2 linked regions of the Homo sapiens genome follow. The protein of the gene in region 1 purifies or fractionates together with the protein of each later gene. This does not show direct contact. Each region holds a gene or a part of one and is shown in the gene's direction. Other genes may lie near its edges.

Region 1 (3,500 bases):
GCTTTGAAAACCAATAACAAATGGAAAAATTTATATAAACTATGTAAAAATCTATCTGCTTCTTTGGACTATGCAATAGTTTCTTAGATATGACACCAAAAGCACAAGAACAAAGGAAAAATTGATAGATTAGACTTCATCCAAAAACTTCATTCAAAGTTTGTCCTTTGAAAAATTTTTATGTTTCAAAGGACAACATCAAGAAAGTGAGGCCAGGCGCAGTGGCTCACATGTGCAATCCCAGCACTTTGGGAGGCCAAAGCGGGTGGATGACCCGAGGTTAGGAGTTTGAGACCAGCCTGACCAACATGGTGAAACCCCGTCTCTACTAAAAATACAAAAAAAAAAAAAAAAAAGAAAAGAAAAAGAAAGAAAGTGAAATGACAACCGACAACCCACAGAATGGGAGAAGATATTTGCAAATTATATTTGTCTGAGCAGGAACTCGTATCCAGCATATTTAAGAACTCTTAAAATTCAACAACAAAAAGACAACTCAATTTAAAAATGGGCAAAGGATTTGAATAGAAGATATACAAGTGACCAATATGCGCATGAAAATGCTGGATATCATTAGCCATCAGGGAAATGCAAAGCAAAACCACAGAGTGGGCTGGGGTGGCCAAAATAAAATAGGCCATAGCAAGTGTTGATGAGGATGTGGAGAAATTGGAGCCCTCATACACTGCGAGTGGGAACATAAAATGGTGCAGCAGCTGTACAAAGCAGTTTGGCAGTTCCTCAGAAAGTTAGTTGCCTTATGACTCAGCAATCCCTCCCCTACTTACATACCATGAGAAGTGAAAGCATATGTCCACATAAAATCTTGTTCATGGCAGCATTATTCATAATAGCCAAAAAGTGAAACCTATGCAAATGTTCATGAACTGACAAATGGGTAAACAAAATGTGGTTTATCCATCCAGCAAACTGCTCTTCTGCAATAAAAAGAAATATCGTTCTGTTACATGCCATAACATGGATGAACTATGAAATGATTATGCCAAATTTAAGAAGCTAGTCACAAAAGGCCACATATTGTCATTTAAATATGATTCTGTTTACGTGAAATGTGCAGAATAGGCAAATCCATAGAGACAGAAATTTGATTAGGGCTTGACTGGGGCTGGGGAAGGGGAATGACTACTTATGGGTATACAGTTTCTTTTCGGGGTGATGAAAATGTTCCACAGATAGTGGTGATGGTTGCACAAATCTGCAACATACTAAGAACCACTGAATTGCAGACTTTAAAAGGGTGAGGTTTGTGGGATGTTAATTATATCCCAATAAAGCTATTGGGAAAAAAAATTTACCTGCTTTGACTTAGAGCTAAAATAGAGCTGTCAAGAGGTATAGTTTATTTTTGTTTATATTTGGTTTAGTTTATAAAGGCTTTTTAAAATTTTTTTTATTATACTTTAAGTTTTAGGGTACATGTGCACAACGTGCAGGTTTGTTACATATGTATACATGTGCCATGTTGGTGTGCCGCACCCATTAACTCGTCATTTAGCATTAGGTATATCTCCTAATGCTATCCCTCCCCCCTCCTCCCTCCCCCCACTCCACGACAGGCCCCGGTGTGTGATGTTCCCCTTCCTGTGTCCAAGTGTTCTCATTGTTCAATTCCCACCTGTGAGTGAGAACATGTGGTGTTTGGTTTTTTGCTCTTGCGATGGTTTGCTGAGAATGATGGTTTCCAGCTTCATCCATGTCCCTACGAAGGACATGAACTCATCCTTTTGTATGGCTGCATAGTATTCCATGGTGTATATGTGCCACATTTTCTCAATCCAGTCTATCATTGATGGACATTTGGGTTGGTTCCAAGTCTTTGCTATTGTGAACAGTGCCACAATAAACATACGTGTGCATGTGCCTTTATAGCAGCATGTTTTATAATCCTTTGGGTATATACCCAGTAATGGGATTGCTGGGTCAAATGGTATTTCTAGTTCTAGATCCTTGAGGAATCACCACACTGTCTTCCACAATGGTTGAACTAGTTTACAGTCCCACCAACAGTGTAAAAGTGTTCCTATTTCTCCACATCCTCTCTAGCACCTGTTGTTTCCTAACTTTTTAATGATCGCCATTCTAACTGGTGTGAGATGGTATCTCATTGTGGTTTTGATTTGCATTTCTCTGATGGCCAGTGATGATGAGCATTTTTTCATGTGTCTGTTGGCTGCATAAATGTCTTCTTTTGAGAAGTGTCTGTTCATATCCTTATAAAGGCTTTTAAAAAGTCATCTCCGCCAGGTGCAGTGGCTCACATCTGTAATCCCAGCACTTTGGGAGGCCGAGGTGGGAGGATCACTTGAGACCAGGAGTTCAAAAGCAGTGTGGGCAACAGAGGGAGGCTCTATCTCTACGAAAAATAAACATAAAAATAAAAAAGTCATATCATACTGTTAAATATAGTAATATTTTAAAATGTTTACATTTTGGCATTTCTTATTTTGAATTACGGTAACTGTGAATTGTGACTTCATTATTCTAGGATACTTACTTTGTTCTTAACTGCAAACTAAACAATCTTTTGGATGATGTCAACATTTCTATAACTAAATGTATTCGCATCCTTCATTATTATTTAAATTGGCCATTTTGTGAAAATATTAGGCACTTTAAATAATCAGAGGAGTGGGGAAATACTGCCGAAGTTTTCAGTTGGCTCTCATTATTTCTATTATCTTAAATAAGAAAGGTAAGAAAGTGGAATTCTGGTAATTATTTTGCAATCTCTGCGCTCTGCACCACTGTGAACTCATAGCTGAAGCTGCCTTGGACTATTTTACCTGGGCATCACCCATATACTCCTTGTTATTATAAATTGGGAGACAGTAAAACAGACTTGATTTTTGAGGTCTATTGCATTAAAAAAAAACAGAATTTAGAAGATGAACTCAGTTGTACTTATCCTTTAATCCTGTTTTATCTCTGGCAACTATTAAACAAGTCGAACTGCTCAGAGAAGTTGGGCAATAAGCTAAAGCTACTTCATAATAGTATGGTTCCATCAGAACAGATGGTGCAGTGTCTGACCTATTTCCCATCAAGAATAGATTAAAACTCTTACATAATAGAACTAGTACTGTGCAGTCTGTTTTCCATAGCACTATTCCTGGCTGCAGAAAGAGATCAGAAATAAAAGAAAATAATGTAGTTAGACAAGTAGAAGAACATCCTTCCAATTAAACTGACTTAATGTATTATCATAAATCATGGAGGCAGTAAGTCTGCATGCTACTTGATGACTGGTAAATGGGATCCTGAATTAAGCTTTGATTCATTCATTTGACAAATATTTATTAAATGTCTGCCATGCACCCGGACAGCTGAGCCCTAGGGATACAGCTGTGAGCAAGGCAGATGTACAAGGCAGATCGACAAAGCTTTCATTTTAGTCAAAAGAAGACACATAAGTGAGCACACGATATTTTGCAGAGATAGACGTATGTTTTATGAATGTTTGTCCTATCATTCAATGAATA
Region 2 (3,500 bases), on another chromosome or scaffold:
AAAATATTCAGTGAACCGTGTTGTAAACAGATGTCATATTATCCAGACTGTTCCATTTATTGAACACAGGCAGAGTAGGTAAAAGTTTTAAGGGTCCTAGGATTTTCAGGATGGCAAATGAGCATTGGCTTCAACTTAAAGTCACCAGCTACATTCACCACTAAAGAGAGTCAGCCTGTCCTTTAAAGCTTTAAAGGCAAGCATTGACTTCTCTTTAGCTATGAAAGTTTTAGATGGCACCTTTTTGTAAAAGAAGGTTGTTTTATCTACATTGAAAATATATTGTTCATTGTAACCACTTTCATCAATGATCTTAGCTAGATATTCTGGGTAACTTACTGCAGGTTCTCCATCAGCACTTACTGCTTCACCTTGCACTTTTATATTATGGAAACAACTTATCTCCTTAAACATCATTAACCAACCTCTTGGTAGCTTCCAACTTTTCTTCAATAGCTTCCTCATCTCTCTCAGCCTTCATAGAATTGAAGCGTGTTAGGGCTTTGTTCAGGATTAGGCTTTCACTTAAGGCAATGTTGTGGCTGGTTTGATCTATTGAAACCACTAAAACATTCCCATATCGGCAATAAGGCTGTTTGATTTTCTTATCATTCATGTTTTCTGGAACACTTTTCAATTACTTACAGTAAGGAAATAGCACTTTTAATTTCCTTCAAGAACTTTTCCTTTGCCTTCACAACTTGTGCAAGAGACCTAGCTTTCAGCCTATCTTGACTTTCCAAGATTGTCCTTGGTGAGAAATGCTTGATTACTAGGTGTAATTATTTCTAGCTTTTGATTGAAAGTGAGAGATATGTGACTCTTCCTTTTACTTGAACAGTTAGAGGCTATTGTAGGATTATTAATTGGCCTAATTTCAATGTTATTTTGTCTCAAGGAGAGAGGGATGTGGGAACAGCTGGTTAGGAGAGCAGTCCGAACACACACTTTTTTTTATTACTTTCACTGCCTTACATGGGTATGGTTCATGCTGCCTCCAAATACTTACAAAAACATCAAAGATCACTGATTACAGATCATTAAAATAGGTTTAATAATAATGGAAACATTTGAAATATTGCAAAAATTACCAAAATGCGACAGAGACATGAAATGAGAACATGCTGTTGAAAAAAATGGCACTCATAGACTTGTTGGACACAGGATTGAAAGAAACCAATTCATCAAAACCACAATATCTGCAAAACGCAATAAGGTGATGCACAATAAAAGGAAGTATATCTGCACTTCCTTCTTTTTTACTGAAAAAGCCCAAGTTCTTACTCTGGTGTTGAGAACCTTTCATTAGCTGGCTACAATCTCAGTTCACAATCATTTCTTATTGCCCTTCAACAATGTCCTGACCAAATCGAGTTCTTTCTCATTGGGAACAGTTCATTCCTTTATCCCTTCGCTCATTCTGTTCCTTTTTTCTTAGAAAAATTATTTGCCCATGTTTTTTATCCCCCAATTCTATCTTTTTCAATGCCCACTTCGTGTCCAACCCCTCTCTACTTTCCCTCTAAACTTACTCAAACACTTGGTGAACTTTTTCTGAATGTTTTTTCTGAATGTTTACTTTTAAAGGAGTTGCCCAGTCACAAAGTTTGAGCCAAGTTTTTTTGTTTTAAACTTGTTTTAAACTTTTGTTTTCATCAACTTTTTTCAAACAATTTTTGTCAGCTTAGAGGTTGTGTTTTAATTACTATTTTTAAAATCTTGTATGAGGTAGTATGATTTGAAATTAGATGGAATGTGCCCAAAATTATCTCTGTAGAATAATATGGAAAAACGAAAATGAAAAGATGTATTACCTGAATGTGCTCCTCCTAGCCAGTTTCTCAAGGGAGAAGAATCATTAATAAGTTTGTGAGGCTTTTTTTTTTTTTCTGGTAGATTTCTGTTTCCTTGATCAGTGGTTTTTCAGAATTTTTTAAAGCTTGTGAAATACTTATTTGTAAATAGCATCTTATGAGGAACCTTGATATGTGACAAAACAGATGCTTTGATTTGAGAGCAGAAGACCTGCAGCCCCTGACTGCTCACCTTTCCAGGGACCCCTGAACATTGGCCTAGAGGGTAGTGTACAGTCACTTCTTCAGTGATAACTTACTGAGTGTGATTCAACAAAACTGCTTTGGTTTATGGGTGAAACATAATTTATAACTAGGCAAATGTCAGCTTAAATTTATATTTTCTAAATAGCACTGAAAATGACAATAGACAAATGTAATTTCTGATTTTTAAGAAATGATTTTCCATTTTAACATACATTTTAAATGTTTTGTCTTCAAAGGGAATCCTTAAAAATGATATATTGGAAACCACTGATTTCTTATTTTCATTTCATGAATTTCAGATTCATGAATGGAATATATTGATAATAGCATTTTTTAAGTTGCCCCAAAAAGATGAAATACAAATAATTTTAATCCCAAATCTATTTCAGACACCTAACTTTTTTTTTATTTTTTATACTTTAAGTTCTAGGATACATGTGCAGAACGTGCAGGTTTGTTACATAGGTATACACGTGCCATGTTGGTTTGCTGCACCCATCAACCCGTCATCTACATTAGATATTTCTACTAATGCTATCCCTCCCCTAGCCCCCTACCCCACAAAAGGCCCCAGTGTGTGATGTTCCCCTCCCTGTGTCCATCTGTTCTCATTGTTCAACTCCCACTTATGAGTGGCAACATGTGCTGTTTGGTTTTCTGTTCCTGTGTGTGTTTGCTGAGAATGATGGTTTCCAGCTTCATCCATATCCCTGAAAAGGACATGAACTCATCCTTTTTTATGGCTGCATAGTATTCCATGGTGTATATATGCCACATTTTCTTTATCCAGTCTATCATTGATGGACATTTGGGTTGGTTCCAAGTCTTTACTATTGTGAACAGTGCTGCAATAAACATATGTGTGTATGTGTCTTTACAGTAAAATGATTTATAATCTTTTGGGTATACACCCAGTAATGGGATTGCTGGGTCAAATGGTATTTCTGGTTCTAGATCCTTGAGGAATCACCACACTGTCTTCCACAATGGTTGCAATTTACACTCCCACCAACAGTGTGTAAAAGCTTCCTATTTCTCTACATTCTCTCCAGCATCTGTTGTTTCCTGACTTAATGATTGCCATTCTAACTGGCGTGAGATGGTTTCTCACTGTGGTTTTGATTTGCATTTCTGTAATGACCCGTGATGATGAGCTTTTTTTCATGTTTGTTGGCTGCATAAATGTCTTCTTTTGAGAAGTGTAAGGTACTTAATTCTTAAATTAAAAAAAAATACCCGGCCGGGCACGGTGGCTCACGCCTGTAATCCCAGCACTTTGGGAGGCCGAGGCGGGTGGATCATGAGGTCAAGAGATCGAGACCATCCTGGCTAACAAGGTGAAACCCCGTCTCTACTAAAAATACAAAAAATTAGCCGGGCGCGGTGGCGGGCGCCTGTAGTCCCAGCTACTCGGGAGGCTGAGGCAGGAGAATGGCGTGA

The links. Proteins that work in one complex are often made in the same cells at the same time.
Region 2: the proteins of SLC46A3 (region 1) and TMEM106B purify together in Homo sapiens (affinity purification with mass spectrometry; one large-scale study listed by BioGRID and IntAct). This does not show direct contact.

Annotation. Positions count from the first base shown.
Region 1 is NC_000013.11:28,705,471-28,708,970, reverse strand, and holds part of SLC46A3 (lysosomal proton-coupled steroid conjugate and bile acid symporter SLC46A3 isoform a precursor), read left to right. Parts: intron 1-1,338; exon of another isoform or gene 1,339-2,374; intron 2,375-3,500. UniProt on the Homo sapiens protein: Lysosomal proton-coupled steroid conjugate and bile acid transporter. Preferentially recognizes lipophilic steroid conjugates or bile acis as endogenous substrates and seems to mediate escape from lysosomes to the cytoplasm.
Region 2 is NC_000007.14:12,238,794-12,242,293, forward strand, and holds part of TMEM106B (transmembrane protein 106B), read left to right. Parts: 3' UTR 1-3,500. UniProt on the Homo sapiens protein: In neurons, involved in the transport of late endosomes/lysosomes. May be involved in dendrite morphogenesis and maintenance by regulating lysosomal trafficking.